Homo sapiens: one gene and its partners. The protein of the gene in region 3 purifies or fractionates together with the protein of the main gene of each other region. This does not show direct contact. Each region holds a gene or a part of one and is shown on either strand. Other genes may lie near its edges.

Region 1 (4,615 bases), on a different chromosome or scaffold from region 3:
CGTGGTGGCTCATGCCTGTAATCCCAGCACTTTGGGAGGCTGAGGCGGGCGGATCACTTGAGGTTGGGAGTTTGAGACCAGCCTGACCAACATGGAGAAACCCCGTCTCTACTAAAAATACAAAATTAGCCAGTTGTGTTGGTGGGCGCCGTAATCCCAGCTACTTGGGAGGCTGAGGCAAGAGAATCACTTGAACCTGGGAGGCAGAGGTTGCGGTGAGCTGAGATCGTGCCATTGCACTACAGCCTGGGTAACAAGAGTGAAACTCCATCTCCAAAAAAAAAAAAAAAAAATGGCATCTACTACTTCTGAATTGTCATAATTTTTTTCTTATAAATGTAGATTCCTATTTAATGGAGGTATAGTCTGAATAATCTTTCTTACTAGTAACTTTAAAAAAAGAAAGTCTTAAACTTACAGAAAAGTTGCAAATACAGTATAAAGAATTTTTCTGTGGCCAGGCGCGGTGGCTCACGCCTATAATCCCAGCACTTTGGGAGGCTGAGGCAGGCAGATCACAAGGTCAGGAGATCGAGACCATCCTGGCTAACATGGTGAAACCCCATCTCTACTAAAAATACAAAAAATTAGCCAGGCGTGGTGGCATACGCCTGTAGTCCCAGCTATTCAGGAGGCTGAGGCAGGAGAATCACTTGAACCTGGGAGGTGGAGGTTGCATTGAGCCGAGATCGCGCCACTGCACTCCAGCCTGGGCGACAGAGTGAGACTCCGTCTCAAAAATAAAAAAGAAAAAAATTTTTTGTCCCTGAATTATGTGAGAATAAGTGGCTGACATGATGCCACATCACCCCCAAATATTTGAATATGTCTTTCCTACAAACAAGGACATTCTTCTACATAACTACAAAACAACCATAAAAAATCAGGAAATTAACACTGATGTGTCATACTGTCTAATCCTCAGGTCCCATTCAACTTTTGCCAGTGGTCCTTCATAGCAGAAGGATCCAGTTCTGAATCATATGTTGATTTAATTGTCATGTCAGGACTAGTTCCTTAATCTTTCTTTGACTTTCGTGACTTTGACATGGTTCTTTTGTGTATTGTCCCTCAATTTGGGTCTGTGTGGTGCTTCCTCATGATTAGCTTTGGGTTATGCATCTCTGGCAGGAATGTCACAGAAGGGATGCTCTGTTCTTATTGTATCCTATCAAGTGGTGCATGGTTTTGATTTGTCTCATTACTGATGATATCAGCTTTGCTTACTGGATGACGATGATGTCTGCCACTGTTCTTCACTGTAAAGTTACTCTTTTCCCCTTTGTAATTAATAAGTACCTTATGTGGGGGGGGGTGGCAGGTAACTTTGAGACCTTCATCAGACTTTCAATTCATTATTTTTAAATCAGTATGGACTCAGGAATTCCTATGTTACTGAATGGACTATAATATGTTACTATCATCTATTTGATGTTCACATGATCCCAGGAGTGTCCCAGTCCCTTCAGGCTAGCTTCTGTGTGGTTTTCTTTGATGTGTCCCCATTATTCTTTGAGCACTTTCTCACTTTCTGGCACAATAAAATATTCTAGGCTCATCTTATGCTTTTCCCTGCCCCAGTCCTAGAATCACCCACATCTCCAAGGAGCCCTTTTTTGAAATGGAGAATGATATTTTGAAGTGGAGGATGATATTTTGAAATGGAGATATGTGCGTTGGGAGTGGTCATTATTCCTGGGTATCACTGCTCCCATACCCTCTTAGTGGAGGAGCTGGGAAATATATGTGCATATACGTACATATATGTTATTTCTAAATCTTTGTACAGATGTATGTATGAAAACCATGGGATCGCACTGATAGCTCCAATTCCAGTTCAGCCACCACGGGGTTCATTCTCATTTCCTTCCTTTCCATATTTGTAATTCCCTTCTCCAACTGGCTCCATTCTCCTTAATATATTGACTTATTTAATCAGTTCCGCTGTATGTGACCAATTTCCTATGGCTGCCACCCCTCATGCATCATGGATGCTCCCCTCACCTTACCTGGGCTCTGGTACCCCACACCAGGTCCCCCTCTGCAGGCTCACCCTCTTCATTGTGCTCAAGCTGTGACATGCTCTGCCATCACTCTTGCAGCCTCTCTGCAAGGATGTCCTCCTCACCGTGCTTGGATGCCAGCACCCTACTCTAGGTTACCTTACTTGCTCCCACCTAATGATATTTGGGCTGAATGGTTGGGAAAGGGTCTGAAAAAGGGTTCTAATATATTGTTTAAAAAACTATTTTTTTATAGAGATGGGGTCTCCCTGTGTTGCCCAGGTTTTTCGTGAACTCCTGGGCTCAAAGGATCTTCCTGCCTCAGCCTCCTAAAGTTCTGATTACAGGTGTGAGCCGCCGTGCCTGGCCTTTTTTTTTTTTTTTGAGACAGAGTCTCACTCTTGTTGCCCGGCCTGGAGTAGAGTGGTCCGATCTTGGCTCATTGCATCTTCTGCCTCTGGGTTCAGGCGATTCTCCTGCCTCAGCCTCCTGAACAGCTGGGATTACAGGCACCCGCCATCACATCTGGCTAATTTTTGTATTTTTAGTAGAGACGGGGTTTCACCATGTTGGCCAGTCTGGTCTCAAACTCCTGACCTCAGGTGATCTGCCTGCCTCGGCCTCCCAAAGTGCTGGGATTACAGGTGTGAGCCACCATGCCAGGCCCTAACTTTTAAAATATAGATACAAGCTTGTTGTTAAGCTTACGCCTAGCAACTACTTTTCTCTAGATTAAATAAACCCAGTTAAAAATTCTTGGCTGGGCACAGTGGCTCACACCTGTAATCCTTGCACTTTGGGAGATCGAGGCAGGAGGATCGCTTGAGGCCAAGACTTTGAGACCAGCCTGGGAAACATAGTGAGTCCCCATCTCTACAAAACCCAAAAAATTAGCTGGGCATGGTGGCATGCACTAGTAGTTCCAGCTACTCAGAAGACTGAGGTGGGAGGATTGCTTCAGCCCAGGAAGTCGAGGCTGCAGTGAGCTGTGGTGACACCACTGCACTACAGCCTGATTGACTTTGGTTTGCTTAGGTGTCCTTATATATACAAACTCCCCTGCCACTACCCTCTTTCTTGCTCATTAACTTCTGTTGATGGCCAGTCCCTTTAACCTGTTCACTTGATTCTATTCCTTCTATTTCTTCAAGGAACTGCCTTATCACTTGGCTTTCTCCCTCATTTCCTGAGCCTTTTCTCAACTTCACTTTTCCCTCAAGTTATAAACATATTCAAGGTTCTTCCATCTTAAAATGAAAAATAGGCCGGGCAGGGTGGCTTACGCCTGTAATCCCAGTAGTTTGGGAGGCCGAGGCGGGTGGATCACTTGAGGCCAGGAGTTCGAGACCAGCCTGGGCAATATGGTGAAACCCCGTCTCTACTAAAACTACAAAAAGTAGCCGGGCGTGGTGGTGCGTGCCTGTAATCCCAGCTACTCGGGAGGCTGAGGCACGAGAATCGCTTGAGCCTGGGAGGCAGAGGTTGCAGTGAGCTGAGATAGACTCCAGCCTGGACAACAGAGCGAGACTCTGTCTCAAAAACACAAAAATTAGCCGGGTGTAGTGGCATGTGCCTGTAGTCCCAACTACTCAGGAGGTTGAGGCAGGAGAATGGCTTGAACCCGGGAGGTGGAGGCTGCAGTGAGCTGAGATCGCACCACTGCATTCCAGCCTGGGTGACAGAGTGAGGCTCTGAGTCAAAAAAAAAAAAAAAGATAAGTAAAAAATCCTCTTTCCTTATAACACCTCACACTTTCTTCCTTACTTCATAGCTCACTTTCTGAAAAGAACCTAGAAAATCACCTGCTCTCATTGCCTCTTTATGCTAACTTCCTGTTAATTAAACATTTCCCGGTCGGCTGTGTTCCGGCTTCTGCTCCTCCACGCCATTGAATCTGCTCTTGCCAAGCTCGCCATTGGCCCCTTTACTGCACAGTTGAATGGATACTTTTCAGGGCTGACCTGACCCCTTTGTGGCTTCTTATATCGTCCAGCCCATCCTTGGGCTTTGGTGACATTTCCTTCTGCTTCTCTGGCTGCTCTTTTGTAGTCCCCTTTGTAGGTTCCTCTTTTTCTGTTGATCCCTTAAATGTAGGTTATCCCCAGGGTTTTGTCTTCTGCCCTTTCAAAAACTGATTATTTTTTGAATTTATTTTATTTTATTTTGTTTATTTATTTTTTTTGAGCTGTAGTTTCGCTCTTGTTGCCCAGGCTGGAGTGCAATGGCGCTATCTCAGCTCACTGCATCCTCCATCTCCCGGGTTCAAGGGATTCTCCTGCCTCAGCCTCCCATGTAGCTGGGATAACAGGCACACACCACCACGCCCGGCTAATTTTTTGTATCTTTAGTAGAGACGGGGTTTCACCATGTTGGCCGGGCTGGTCTCGAACTTCTGACCTCAGGTGATCCACTCGCCTCGGCCTCCCAAAGTGCTGGGATTACAGACGTGAGCCACTGCGCCCGGCCTTTTGAATTTTATAATTTGTTCATATTAATTAAATTTTAAGGCATTTTAAAATTTAACAATAAAATTGTTAAATCTTTTAAAATTATTTATTTAGTTTTTGAGACAGGGTCTCACTCTGTCACCCAGGCTGGAGTGCAGTGGCGTG
Region 2 (4,615 bases), on a different chromosome or scaffold from region 3:
ACATGTTTAAATGTCCAAGAATCAAAATCCACCTTCTGACTCCCCTGCCTCTCGTCTCACCCTCCCACTCCAACTCCACACAGTGGACATGAGGTTGTGACATTAGGGCATTCCTCAGCATAAAAACCTCCTATGTCTCTTTATGTTTGTTTGTTTGTTTGTTTGTTTAGACGGAGTCTCGCTCTGTCGCCAGGCTGGAGTGCAGTGCTGTGATCTCGGCTCACTGCAATCTCTGCCTCCTGGGTTCAAGCAATTCCGAGTAGCTGGGACTACAGGCATGCACCACCACGTCTGGCTAATTTTTTGTATTTTAGTAGAGACAGGGTTTCACCATGTTGGCCAGGATGGTCTCGATCTCCTGACCTCGTGATCCACCTGCCTCGGCCTCCCAAAGTGCTGGGATTACAGGCATGAGCCACTGCGCCTGGCTTTTTTTTTTTTTTTTTTTTTTTGAGACAGAGTCTCATTGTATCTGAGGTTGGAGTGCAGTGGCATGATTTTAGCTCACTACAACCTCCATCTCCTGGGCTCAGGTGATCCCACCTCAGCCTCCCAGGTAGCTGGGACTAAAGGCATGCTGCCACCAAACGTGGCCAATTTTTGTATTTTTTTTTTTTTTTTTTTGTAGTGACAGGGTTTTGGCATCTTGCTCAGGCTGGTCTCAAACCCCTGGGCTCAAGCAATCTCCCCGCCTCAGCCTCCTGAAGTGCTGGGATTATAGGTGTGAGCCACTGCACCCAGCCAAAACTCTCCTATGTTTTAATCTGGGCACTGGGATGCTTTTTAAAAATTCACTAAGCATCATTTAAGATCTGAGCACTTTATATTTAAATATTATTGGAATTCAATTTTTTAAAGTTAAGGGCAAAAATCTTCAAAATGAACTTATCTGCCCTTGGATTAAAGTCCAAACTCTTTCACAGATTTACTAGACCCTTTGTGGTCAGGCCCCTCTCACCTCCTCAGCCTCCTCTCACCTCCTCAGCCTCAGCAATCACTGCCCCCTCCTTCAAACTCTCTTCCAAGCCATACTAAGTGCTTTCGTCTCTCCAAGAGCACCATGCAGTAGCTCACCCCAGGCCTCAGCAAAGGCTATTCTCTCTAGACAACTCCCTGCCACCTGTCCTTATGTAGTGACACCTAGACCTTCACACTGCAGCTGAGATGGAGCCACTTCCTGAGTGAATCCCTGGGTTAGCACAGTCTCCTCCGAAATGACCTTTTGGTACCCCGTACCTATCCCTATAAATCATTTACTTAGTCGTCACCTATCTTCCCAAGGAATAGTATGTCACGAGCATTGTAATTGTGTCTGTTTTGCTCACTGCTGTAACCCCAGCCCTTAATTCAGTGCCTGGCACCTAGCAGGTGCTCAATAAACATTTGCTGAACAAATGAGCAAAGCAGCATTTAAAATAAGATATTGTCTCAGCTGTTTGCTAAACTACAGGCAATGCTGGCAGAACTGGGTCATGGTCACCCTTCTTCTCACAGCACACAGAGCATGAGCCACTGACAAAGCACTTAAGAGGCCGGGCATGGTGGTTCATGCCTGTAATCCCAACACTTTGGGAGGCCAAGGTGGGAGGATCGCTTGATCCCAGGAGTTCAAGACTGCCCTGGACAACATAGTAAGTCCCTACAAAACAATTTTTTAAATTAGCCAGGCTTGGTGGCTCATGTTTGTAGTCCCAGCTACTCAGGAGGCTGAGGAGTGAGGAGGCAGGATCACTTGAGCCCAAGAGGTTGAGGCTGTAGTTCATGGAGATTTTGCCACTGCACTCCAACCTCGGCAACAGAGTGAGACCCTATCTTAAAAAAGGAAAAAAAAGGCCGGGTGTGGTGGTTCACACCTGTAATCCCAGCACTTTGGGAGGCCAAGGCGGGTGGATCATGAGGTCAGGAGATCGACACCATCCTGGCTAACATGATGAAACCCCATCTCTACTTAAAAAAATACAAAAAATTAGCCAGGCGTGGTGGCGGGCGCCTGTAGTCCCAGCTACTTGGGAGGCTGAGGCAGGAGAATGGCGTGAACCCAGGAGGCAGAGCTTGCAGTGAGCCGAGATCACGCCACCGCACTCCAGCCTGGGCGACAGAGCAAGACTCCATCTCAAAAAAAAAAAAATAAAAGAGCTTCACAGACACCATGGCCATTTATGGTAGCCTCCACTCTTTCTAGACCAGACTTTCTCAACCTGGCGGCTTGCTGCTTCGCTCTCCTTCCCACCCAGATAGCCAGAGTCCCAGCCCACTCCCCATCTGCAAGCTGACCACATGCTGGGCCTGAGCCCGCTCCAGCCATGAGCTCACCATCTTCAGGAGCATGTTGATCCCCAGCCGTGCAATCTTCCTTTTCAAGTCCACGGGAATTCCTGCCTGCTGGTAACTGGACACAGGCACACTCTCCTTCAGAAAGACCAGGGAGAGAACAGCTTAATCCCAGCCAGCCTGTGATGCTGGCTCCTCCTCCCACGTGGCACCACAGCGCTGTCTTCTCACTTATTGGGAAGTAACCCAAAGAGTATTTCCTTTCCTAGAACCCATCTGTCATTCAGCCATGTGCAGTGGCTCACACCTGTAATCCTAGCACCTTGGGAGGATTGCTTGAGCCCAGGGGTTCAAGACCAGCCTGGACAACATGAGGGAGAACCACCTCAACTCGGAAAGTCAAGGCTTCAGTGAGCTGAGATTGCGCCACTGCACTCTAGCCTGAGTGACAGAGACTCTGTCTCAAACAAAACAAAACAAAAATCTGTCATCCACACATTGATTTGAACTTATTTACATTCCCTTCTATAACAGCTATCAGAAGGATGACAAGTCACATAGGTTTATTGAAAAGGAAACCTATCAACTCTGCTACTGAAGATAAGAGATGTGATGTCCTGAAAAGATAGGGGTGGGCACCAGAGAGCTGGTTTCTGGGCAAGAATCAGCCAATAGGGGTCTGGGCAACGTAAGGAGACCCCCATCTCTACAAAAAAAAAAAAAAATTACCCAGGTGTGGTGGCTAACACGTATAATCCTAGCACTTTTGGAAACCAAAGCAGGAGGATCACTTGAACTTGGGAGTTTGAGACCAGCCTGGGCAACAGGGAGAAACCCAGGCTCTACAGAAAAATACAAAAATTAGTCGGACATGGGGATGGTGGCTCGTGCCTATGGTCCCAGCTACTTGGGAGGCTGAGGTGGAATGATCACTTGAGCCCAGGAGGTGGAGGCTGCAGTGAGCCGAGATCATGCCACTGTACCACAGCCTGGGCAACAGAGCAAGACCTTGTCTCAAAAAAAAAAAAATTGTCAAAACAACCCATGGAGATAGATCTTGTTATCCCTAATTAACAAATAAAAGAACCAAAGCCCAGAGAGGTTAAGCAACTTGCTCAAGTTCACACAGCTAGAAACACTGTGTGGTTCATGTCACATTCATGAGATTCCCTGAATCTCATATCACCATCTGTAAAGAGGAGGCTGGGCTGGGTGCAGTGGCTCATGCCTGTAATCCCAGCACTTTGGGAGGCCAAGGCAGGCAGATCACTTGAGGTCAGGAGTTCCAGACCAGCCTGGCCAACACGGCAAAACTCCATCTCTACTAAAAAATACAAAAATTAGCCAGGTGTGGTGGCACACACCTGTAATCGCAGCTACTTGGGAGGCTGAGGCACGAGAATCACTTGAACCTGGAAGGCGGAGGTGGCAGTGAGCTGAGATCATGCCACTGCACTCCAGCCTGGGCAACAGAGTGAGACTCTATCTCAAAAAAAAAAAAAAAAAAAAAAAAAAAAGAGAGAGAAGGCTGAACTAGAGTAGAGGATAGCTAGGGCAAGTGAGATGACACAAGGTTGTTCAGCACTTTCTCTGTGCCCAACTCCTTGTTTTGCATTCAGTGTGTCATTTACTCCTGAGACAATCCTCTAAGGCAGGTCACCAACTAATAAAATGGCAGAGCAGATTTTCAAATCTAGGGGATCGGGCCACACCCAGTGTTCTCAGCTACCTCACTCCAACACTGCCTCCCGCCGAGGCCAACACATCCCAGCTCCTCACAGTTTTACAGACACAAATCCCATCCTCTCTCCAGACTGAAGCCTTTCTGTGGGCTGGAGACGGGCCCACTGCGAGTGGCAAGTGAAAGGTATGGCCAGGCAAAGCCATCACTCTTACTTCATACGTTTCCACCAAGACTTCTCTGGTGACAAAGGGGCGCAGAGGGGTGGGGAACTTGACGGCTTTCACATTCCGGAAGTTGACCTGGAAGTGTTCTAGATTCTGAGCTTCGTAACGCAGGTCAATCTACAGAGAAATGGACAGAAAGGATGAGGGCTAGTCTGGGTACAGGCACAGTGACATCTGCAATGCCAAGGAGCTAGCAAGTCATGAGATCCACCCCACCTTCCCCACCAGCTTGCCCCGCAGAACTTGCCCAGAAACTCAGGAGGCGACATCCGTGGGCTACAGCCTGCCCCAGCAATCCCAGATCTCTGTGTGAACTCCTGGAGGCTGCAGACGGCAGGTGCCCTGGTGGGCTTTGGGCTGCACTGCTTCTCTGCTACTCTCGCCCTTGCCACCCGCCTGCCTCACACCAGCCCATGAGTCCCTTCCCCGTCTCCCT
Region 3 (4,639 bases):
GTGCTGCTTGCTACCGCTGGGAACGGGTGGGTGGGAGTTCTGGCTCTCACAGGTGTCTCCCCCAGTAGGAGGGCAGAAGCATCTCAGTACTGTTTCCCACCTGGCTCCCACTGGCACCATGGTAGACGTGACCTTGTTCCTGCTGGGCAGTGGTCAAAGTCCCAACTCTCCGCTGGGCCCCCAAGGCCACCCCAGTGGTGGGGAAGTGTGGCGGATACACTGTCAGATGAGAGGAAAGCTCAAGCCCCCCACCTGGTCTCCACTGACACCACAGGGGCTGGCCCCCTCAGCCTTCTCTGACACCATCACCACCAGGGCTGGGGTGCCTGTTGTGTCCCGGCAAGGGCGGGATACAGGCTCCCCACATGGCCTTGCCTTGATTCATGGAAATGACTGGCCCTCAACCTGCTCACCAGAGATGCAGGCAGGCTCTTCCTGGAAGAGTTCAACACTGCCCTGAACCTCTTTGTCTTCCACAGACAATGCCTGCATTCAGGAAAAACTAAACACTACAAACAAAATCAGAAGGGAGAGCAAAAGAAAAAGGCCTACGGACCACCCAGTTATTAGAGTAATCAATGTGAACTAGAGTTAGTGCATTCAAAAAGACAGATGACAAGAGGAACAGTTTTACCTGAGAACTGAAATCTTAAGAGCTCCTAGTATGAATAAAAGAGTAACCAGCCGGACACAGTGGCTCATGCCTGTAATCCCAGCACTTTGGGAGGCCGATGTGGGCAGATCGCTTGAGGTCCAGAGTTTGAGGCCAGCCTGGCCAATGTGATGAAGCCCTGTCTCTACTAAAAAATACAAAAAATAGCCGGGTATGGTGGCGGGCGCCTGTAATCCCAGCTACTCTGGAGGCTGAGGCAGGAGAATCGCTTGAACCCAGGAGGCAGAGGTTGCAGTGAGTCGAGATCTCGCCACTGCACTCCAACCTGGGCAACAAGATCGAAACACCGTCTCAAAAAAAAAAAGGAGTAATCAGACCTAGAAGGAGGGCAGCGCCCTGAAAGCACAAAAGGGCGTGAAGCACAGAGGCAAGCACGTGCGATGGACAGGACAGGGCAAAGGGGCAAATGGACCCTCGATGAAGACCCTGATGTGAGGAGAGAGGCACAGAGGCACTGTCATCAATAAGCAGGATGAACACAAAGACAGACACAACTAAGCAAGTTATTATAAATCTGACGAAATCCAAACAGAGAGATCATCCGAGAAGGTGCCAGAGAAAAGACATCCATCTTCAAAGGATCTGCAATCTGCAAGTGGCAAGACTCCTAGTGAGCTTATTTTCGATCGTTCAGCATCTTCCAGAGTTTCTACAATGAGGACATGCTGCTTTTATCATCAGGAAACGAAAAGGTAAAACACCAGAGCTGTGGCGCGGAGTATGGCCAGGCTCACCTTGTCGTCTGCCTTTATGGAGCGCAGCCGCATGGTAAGCTGGAAGCGCAGGAAGTTGTTGGTGCCGATGGACTGTAGCTCCAGCAGCTTGCACAGGGCCACCAGCTGCGGCCGTGTCAGGTTGTCCAGGGTCAGCTCATCCTCAAATAATTTGGAAAAACGCATGATTTCCTCATTGCTGGGCCTCTCCCCTGTTTCCCGGATCTGCGGAAGTGGTCACAAGGGTCATCCCCGGGACACGCGCCCACCCGGCTCCCTCCCACGACCAACCACATTCCCAAAGGGTGCTGCCTCTCATCCTCAGGGACTCAAACCACTGACTACTTCTTCTTTTTTTTTTTTGTTTGAGACAGGGTCTCGCTCTGTTACCCAGGCTGGAATGCAGTGGTGTAATCTCGGTTCACTGCAACCTCCACCTCCTGGGTTCAAGGGATTCTCCTGCCTTAGCCTCCCGAGTAGCTGGGATTACAGGCTGCGCCACCACACCCAGCTAATTTTTGTATTTTAGTAGAGATGGGATTTCACTATGTTGGCCAGGCTGGTCTCAAATACCCGACCTCAAGTCACCTGCCCAGCTTGGCCTCAAACCACTGACTTCTGACTCCGGTGCTGGGCTAGCCTGGGGAAAGGTGGCGTCTGGCCTGTGGACCTCTCCTGCCTGAACCAGCAAAGCTGAGGCTGCTGTCTGCTGGGGGAGACGCCCGGGCCCACAGGCTGCTGCATGCAGGTCCTGTGATCCTCTCTCTGCCACAGAAGTGGCCGGGACCCTGCTGCTCTGGGGCAGGAAGAGGTGCACCTGTGTGCACCTACATCTCCCACGGATGACTGCCTGAGCCTTGGGGGAGGGGTGGCCATCTAGCTCTTTAGGGAGAGCTAGAGTCCCTTAGCGTGGATCACTCAGGGCCCTTTGGGTGATCCTCTGCAGTTCCTACCACCTGAGGGACAAGCCACCAGCTCAGTCTCTGCCAAGAGCTGGGCTAGGAGGGTACCTAGCAGAGGTGACAGATGAGGGAGGACGAGGCTGACTTGGTGCCCAACTCAAATCGTAACATGCAGGATGCCAGCTCTGAGACACAATTTCAGGTGTGCTCCTGGGGGCGGCCCTATGCAGCACACCCCCGTGCAGGTGACTGCAAGCACATCCTTCTTGGCAGCTGGGCGGCCCAGGAAAGGTTGGGACGGGCCCCTCCTGCTCTGCAAGGCACGATGTCCTGGGTGAGGCTCCCAAAGCATGGCTCCCCCTAAAACATCTTGCTGGAACCACCACCCACTCCCTGGGGGGCTCAGCAGCCCCATGGCTGTGTCGCCTCCTCCCGAGAGGCTTCTCCGTGGTTAGGCCTCAGCCTGGCAGTCTTTTCTGTCAAGGGCCAGACAGCAAGTATTTCTGGCTTTGCAGCCATGGAAACCACTCGCCTCTGTGCTGCAGCGGGAAAACCCCACAGACAACGCACACGCATGGCTGGAGTTTCTAGGCCCTGGTTTAAGCTCTTCCTGCACTTCAGACACATCCTTCTCACTCCAAAGTGGCACAAGTCCCTCAAGCCAACAACACCGGCCTCGTGAACCCCATCTAGTCCTCAGGGATCTCGGTCCGTGGCAGCTGCCGTCTCCCCATCCTCACCTCACTCACCACATGACCGCAGGAAACCTCAAGGGCCGCTCCTCCTCTCCAGCCCCCACTGCTCCCACAGTCCAGGCCTCTGACCAGCCCCTGGGACCTGGGATCTTCTTGACTGACTCCAGCCAGAGGGCAATGCCCAGCAGAGGAGCCCGGCCAAGCCACCCACACCTCACACCATCAGGGTCTCAGGCTCCTCATGGGTCAGATTCTACTGCTCCTGGACAGCTGCAGGGTGATGAGACACAGACGCCCATAATTCTGAAGGCTGACGAGGCGCAGCCACCACAGCTTAACTCACTGGGAGCTCGTGGGGGCAGACTCCTGACACTCCACTGGCCCCCGACTGAGCCTCCTGGGTAAACTTTCAAGCGCCAGCCAGCACCTGGGGGAGCTCCACTCTGCTGAGCACAGCGAAAGGGAAACAGAAAATCAGGGAAGGCTCCCTGGTGAGGTCACAGGGACTCAGACGTATCACAGCACCTTCTGGAAAAACACAGAGAAGTCTTTGGTGGCGCTGCCCTTGGCTGCCTTGTTCTTCAAGGCCATCTCCTCGATGGTGTCCTGGAGGAACTTGGCCAGCTCCAGCTTGACCCGAAGCTCCTTCTTCAGCCTCTCCTCCTGCAAGGGCAGAGAGGGCACTGCATTCCAACTGCTCAGACTGTGGTTCGGGCAAGGAAAACATCTCACGCCTGTGCCCGACCCCCACTCCCAGAAACATTTCACAACACACTGACTCTCATCTAAGTGCAATACATTCTCAAACTCTTTTATTTCATGGTTTTAAAAAGTACCCGTGTGGGCCGGGCACAGTGGCTCATGCCTGTAATCCCAGCACTTTGGGAGGCCAAGGTGGGTGGATCACCTGAGGTCAGGAGTTTGAGACCAGCCTGGCCAACACGGTGAAACCCCGTCTCTACTAAAAACACAAAAATTAGCCAGGCATGCACACCTGTAATCCCAGCTACTTGGGAGGCTGAGGCACAAGAATCGCTTGAACCCAGGAGGTGGAGGCTACAGTGAGCTGAGATTGCACCACTGCACTCTCCAGCCTGGGTGACAGAGCGAAACTCCGTCTCAAAAAAAAAACAAAAACAAAACAAAAACAAACAAACAAACAAACAAAAACAAACAAACTCGTGTGATTCCCTAAAGCAAGGATCGGCACACTTTCCGTAATGGGCTAGACAGGAAGGCGTCTGGCCTTCATGGCTGTGTGGTCTAAAACAAATGCTTAACTCTGCTGGTGCCTCACAGACAAGACACATGACTGGGCATCGCAGGTCCCCACAGGGCTCTGCTGAGAACAGGCAGGGTCCTGATCTGGCCTGTGGGCTGCAGCTGGCTGACCCTGCCCTAGAAGGACCTCATGACTCCCCTATAGCACCGGTAGGGGAGTGTTCCTGGTCTAGAAAACCTGTATTTTAAAATACATTGAGCTGGAAGCAGTGGCTCACACCCATAATAACACTTTGGGAGGTCATGGCAAGAGGATTACTTGTGCCCAGGAGTTTGAGACCAGCCTGGGCAACATAGCAGATCTTGTCTATAAAAAACAAAAAAAAATTAGTCAGATGTGGTGGCTTAGCCTGTAGTCCCAGCTATTCGGGAGCT
Region 4 (4,615 bases), on a different chromosome or scaffold from region 3:
AATCCCAGCACTTTGGGAGGCCGAGACGGGTGGATCACGAGGCCAGGAGATTGAGACCATCCTGGCTAACACGGTGAAACCCCATCTCTACTAAAAATACAAAAAATTAGCCAGGCATGGTGGTGGGCGCCTATAGTCCCAGCTACTCGGGAGACTGAGCAGAAGAATGGCGTGAACCTGGGTGGCAGAGCTTGCGGTGAGCCAAGATCGCATCACTGCACTCCAGCCTGGGTGACAGAGTGAGACTCCGTCTCAAAACAAACAAACAAACAAATAAACAAACAAACAAAACAGCCAGGTGTGGTGGCGGGTGCCTATAGTCCCAGTTACTCAGGAGGCCGAGGTGAGAGAATAACATGAATCTGGGAGGCAGAGGTTGCAGTGAGCCGAGATCACAACACTGCATTCCAGCCTGGGCGACAAAGTGAGACTGTCTCAAAAAACAAAAACAAAAACAAGCCAGGCGCAGTGGCTCATGCCTGTAATCCCAGCACTTTGGGAGGCAGAGGCAAGTGGATCACGAGGTCAGGAGATCGAGACCATCCTGGCTAACATGGTGAAACCCTGTCTCTACTAAAAATACAAAAAAATTACGTTGGTGGCACGTGCCTGTAGTCCCAGCTACTCAGGAGGCTGAGGCAGGAGAATTGCTTGAACCCAGGAGGCGGAGGTTGCAGTGAGCCGAGATCGCGCCACTGCACTCCAGCCTGGGCGACAGAGTGACACTCCGTCTCAAAAAAAAGAAAAGAAAAGAAAAGAAAAGAAAAAAAACAGCCAGGCGTGGTGGTACGTGCCTGCAGTCCCAGCTACTCAGGAGGCTGAAGTAGCAAGATTGCTTGAGCCTGGAAGTAGAGGCTGCAGTGAGCTGTGATAATGCCACTCTACTCCAGCCTGGGTGACAGAGTAAGACCCTGCCTCAAAAATAATAAATAAGTATAATGAAGAAAGGTGGCCAGGCGTGGTGGCTCACGCCTGTAATCCTAGCACTTTGGGAGGCCGAGGCGAGTGGATCATGAGATCAGGAGTTCAAGACCAGCCTGGCCAACATGGTGAAACCCCATCTCTACTAAAAATAAAAAAAATTAGCAGGGTGTGGTGGTGCATGCCTGTAGTCCCACCTACTCGGGGGTCTGAGGCAGGAGAATCGCTTGAACCCAGGATGCAGAGGTTGCAGTGAGCCGAGATCATGCCCATTGCACTCCAGCCTGGGCAACAGAGTAAGACTCCGTCACAAGAAAAAAAAAAGAAAGGCAAAAGAACTAGATTAGCTGAAACAATTTTGAAAAAGAAGTGAGAGAAATCAATCTATCCGATTTTGAGACTTCTTATGAGCTACAATAATAAAAACTCTCGGTATTGGTGATGGGATAGACACAAAGATCAATGGAATGCAACAGAGAATCAGAAACAGAGTCACACAAGTACAGCCAAGTGATTTCTGACGAAAGTGCAAAAGCAATTCAATGGAAGAAAAACAGTCTTCTCAAACAAACGGTGCTGGTTAGATATTCATAAGCAAAAACCCCCCACAAAAACCAAAAAACACTCAAACTTTAAACCACATACAGAAATTAACTCCAAATGGATATACCTAATGTAAATGACGAGTTAATGGGTGCAGCACACCAACATGGCACATGTATACATATGTAACAAACCTGCATGTTGTGCACATGTACCCCAGAACTTAAAGCATAATAATAAAAAAAAACATTAAAACTTTTAGAATATCTATTTGATCTTGAGTCTTTAGGACTCAAAAAAAGCTGGCCACAAGACTAAATTTATATCAATTACATTAAAATTAAAAACTGTTCATCAAAAAGTACCATAAAGTGAAAACATAAAAAAAAAAAGAAAAAAGAAATTAAGTCTAAATGAATCATAGATTTAAATGTAAAATTTAAAAATTTTATAAAAGTGGCCAGGCGCAGTGGCTCACGCCTGTAATCCTGGCACTTCAGGAAGCCAAGGTGGGAGGATTGCTTGACCCCAGGAGTTTGAGACCAGTCTGGGCAACATGGCAAAACCCGTCCCTACAAAAAATACAAAAATTAGGCCAGGCACGGTGGCTCACGCCTGTAATCCCAGCACTTTGGGAGGCCGAGGCGGGGGGGATCACGAGGTCAGGAGATCGAGACCATCCTGGGTAACACAGTGAAACCCCGTCTCTACTAAAAAATACAAAAAAAAAAAATTAGCCGGGCATGGTGGCGGGCACCTGTAGTCCCAGCTACTCAGGAGGCTGAGGTGGGAGAATGGCATGAACCCGGAAGGCGGAGGTTGCAGTGAGCTGAGATCGTGCCACTGCACTCCAGCACTCCAGCCTGGGCGACAGAGCGAGACTCCGTCTCAAAAAACCAAAAAACAAAAAATACAAAAATTAGCCAGGCATGGTGCAGACTCCGGTACTCTTAGCTACTCAGGAGGCTGAGGTGTGAGGATCACCGGATCACCTGAGCCCAGGAGGTTGAGGCTGCGGTGAGCTGTGATCATGCCACTGCACTCCAGCCTGGGGTGACAGAGTAAGACCGTGTCTCCAAAAAAAAAAAAAAAAAAATTTAGAAAAATACATATGATAAAATCTTCAGGAATTTGGGCTAGGCAAAGAGTTCTTCAACTCAACACCAAAAGCAATCTAACAAAAGATAAAATTGGTAAACCAGACCTCATCAAAATTATAAACTTTTGCTTTGCAAAAGACCCCGTTAAGAAGATGAAAAGGGGCTGAGCGCGGTGGCTCACGCCTGTAATCCCAGCACTTTGGGAGGCCAAGGGGGTGTCGATCACGAGGTCAGGAGATCCAGACCATCCTGGCTAACACAGTAAAAGCCCGTCTCTACTAAAAATACAAAAGAATTAGCCGGGCGTGGTGGCACGCGGCTGTAGTCCCAGCTACTTGGGAGGCTGAGAAAGGCTTGAACCGGGGAGGTGGAGGTTGCAGTGAGCCAAGATTGCACCACTGCACTCCAGCCTGGGCAACAGAGCAAGACTCCGTCTCAAACAAACAAACAAACAAAAAGATGAAAAGGGCTAGGAGCAGTGGCTCACGCCTGTAATCCCAGCACTCTGGGAGGCTGAGGTGGACAGATCGCGAGGTCAGGAGTTCGAGACCAGCCTGACCAACACGGTGAAACCCCGTCTCTACTAAAAATACAAAAATTAGCCAGGTGTGGTGGCAAGCGCCTGTAATCCCAGCTACTCAGGAGGCTGAGGCGGAAGAATCGCTTGAACCTGGGAGGCAGAGGTTGTAGAGATTACGCCACTGCACTCCAGCCTGGGGGACAGAACGAGACTCCATCTCAAAAACAAAACAAACAAACAAACAAAAAAAAAACCAAGATGAAAAGACATGCTGCTGACTAGGAGAAAATATCTGCAAACTACATATCCAACAAAGCAGTGGTATCTAGAATACATTAGGAATTCTCAAAGCTCAACAGTTAACAAAAACCGAACAATCTAATTACGAAATGAACAAAAGATATGAACAGACATTTCACCCGAGAGTATACAGGGGCCAGGCATGGTGGCTCATGCCTGAAATCCTAGCCTTTGGGAGGCTAAGACAGGAGGATCACTTGATCCCAGGAGTTCAAGACCAGCCTGGGCAACATAGCAAGATCCCATCTCTTCCAAAAAAAGAGAGAATAGACAGATGGCAAATAAGCACATGAAAAGATGTTCAACATCATTAGCCATCAGAAAAATGCAAATTACAACCACAAAGAGACATTACTACACATTTATTGGAATGGCTATAATAAAAAAAGTAACATCACCAAATGCTGGCAAGTATGTGGAGAAACAAGACCATACAGTGCCGGTGGGAATGTAAAATAGTACAATCACTCTGGAAAACAGTTTGGCTATTTGTTTAATAACTAAGCACGCACTACGACTTAGTGATTGTATTCCTGGGCATTTATCTTGGAGAAATGTCAATTTATGTTCAAATAAAAATCTGTACATGAAGGTTTGTAGCAGCTTTATTTGTAATAGCCAAAGAATGGAAACAGTAAAGATGTCTTTTAATGGATGAATAAACCAAATGTGGTACATCCATAGCCCAATAGCCCGGCTTCAATAAAAAGGAATGAAGTACCTTTTTTTTTTTTTTTTTGAGACAGGGTCTCACTCTGTCACTCATGCTGGAGTGCAGTGGCGCGATCTCGGCTCACCGCAGCCACCACAGCCTAGGCTCAAGCGATCCTCCCACCTCAGCTTCCTGAGTAGCTGGGATTACAGGAACACACCACTGCGCCTGGCTAATTTTTTTTTTTTTTTTTTTTTGTAGAGACGAGGTCTCACTATGTTCCTCAGACTCGAACTCCTGGGGCTCAAGCGATCTGCCTGCCTCAGCCTCCCAAAGTTGCTAGGATTACAGGCGTAAGCCACTGCGCCTGGCCAAGGAATGAACTACCCATAACACGCAACAACCTGGATGATTCTCCAGGGAATTAAGCTGACTGGAAAAAACCAATCCCAAAAGGCTCTATGAATCCTTTTATTTGGCATTCTTGACATGCCAAAATTAGGGAAATGAAGAACAGATTAGTGGTTACCAGGAGTTGAAGGACTGGGAATGGGAGGAATGTGGGTGTGGCTATAAAAA

The links. The genes of interacting proteins can lie anywhere in the genome.
Region 1: the proteins of LETM1 (region 3) and ACOT9 fractionate together in Homo sapiens (co-fractionation; one large-scale study listed by BioGRID). This does not show direct contact.
Region 2: the proteins of LETM1 (region 3) and ADCK2 purify together in Homo sapiens (affinity purification with mass spectrometry; one large-scale study listed by BioGRID and IntAct). This does not show direct contact.
Region 4: the proteins of LETM1 (region 3) and OGDH fractionate together in Homo sapiens (co-fractionation; one large-scale study listed by BioGRID). This does not show direct contact.

What each region holds. Positions count from the first base shown.
Region 1 is NC_000023.11:23,725,771-23,730,385, reverse strand, and holds part of ACOT9 (acyl-coenzyme A thioesterase 9, mitochondrial isoform a precursor), read left to right. Parts: intron 1-4,615. UniProt on the Homo sapiens protein: Mitochondrial acyl-CoA thioesterase. Catalyzes the hydrolysis of acyl-CoAs into free fatty acids and coenzyme A (CoA), regulating their respective intracellular levels. Regulates both mitochondrial lipid and amino acid metabolism.
Region 2 is NC_000007.14:140,678,836-140,683,450, reverse strand, and holds part of ADCK2 (uncharacterized aarF domain-containing protein kinase 2), read right to left. Parts: intron 4,297-4,615; coding exon 4,168-4,296; intron 2,410-4,167; coding exon 2,314-2,409; intron 1-2,313. UniProt on the Homo sapiens protein: The function of this protein is not yet clear. It is not known if it has protein kinase activity and what type of substrate it would phosphorylate (Ser, Thr or Tyr).
Region 3 is NC_000004.12:1,831,337-1,835,975, forward strand, and holds part of LETM1 (mitochondrial proton/calcium exchanger protein precursor), read right to left. Parts: intron 3,647-4,639; coding exon 3,509-3,646; intron 1,612-3,508; coding exon 1,408-1,611; intron 1-1,407. UniProt on the Homo sapiens protein: Plays an important role in maintenance of mitochondrial morphology and in mediating either calcium or potassium/proton antiport. Mediates proton-dependent calcium efflux from mitochondrion.
Region 4 is NC_000007.14:44,609,018-44,613,632, reverse strand, and holds part of OGDH (2-oxoglutarate dehydrogenase complex component E1 isoform 1 precursor), read right to left. Parts: intron 1-4,615. UniProt on the Homo sapiens protein: 2-oxoglutarate dehydrogenase (E1o) component of the 2-oxoglutarate dehydrogenase complex (OGDHC). Participates in the first step, rate limiting for the overall conversion of 2-oxoglutarate to succinyl-CoA and CO(2) catalyzed by the whole OGDHC.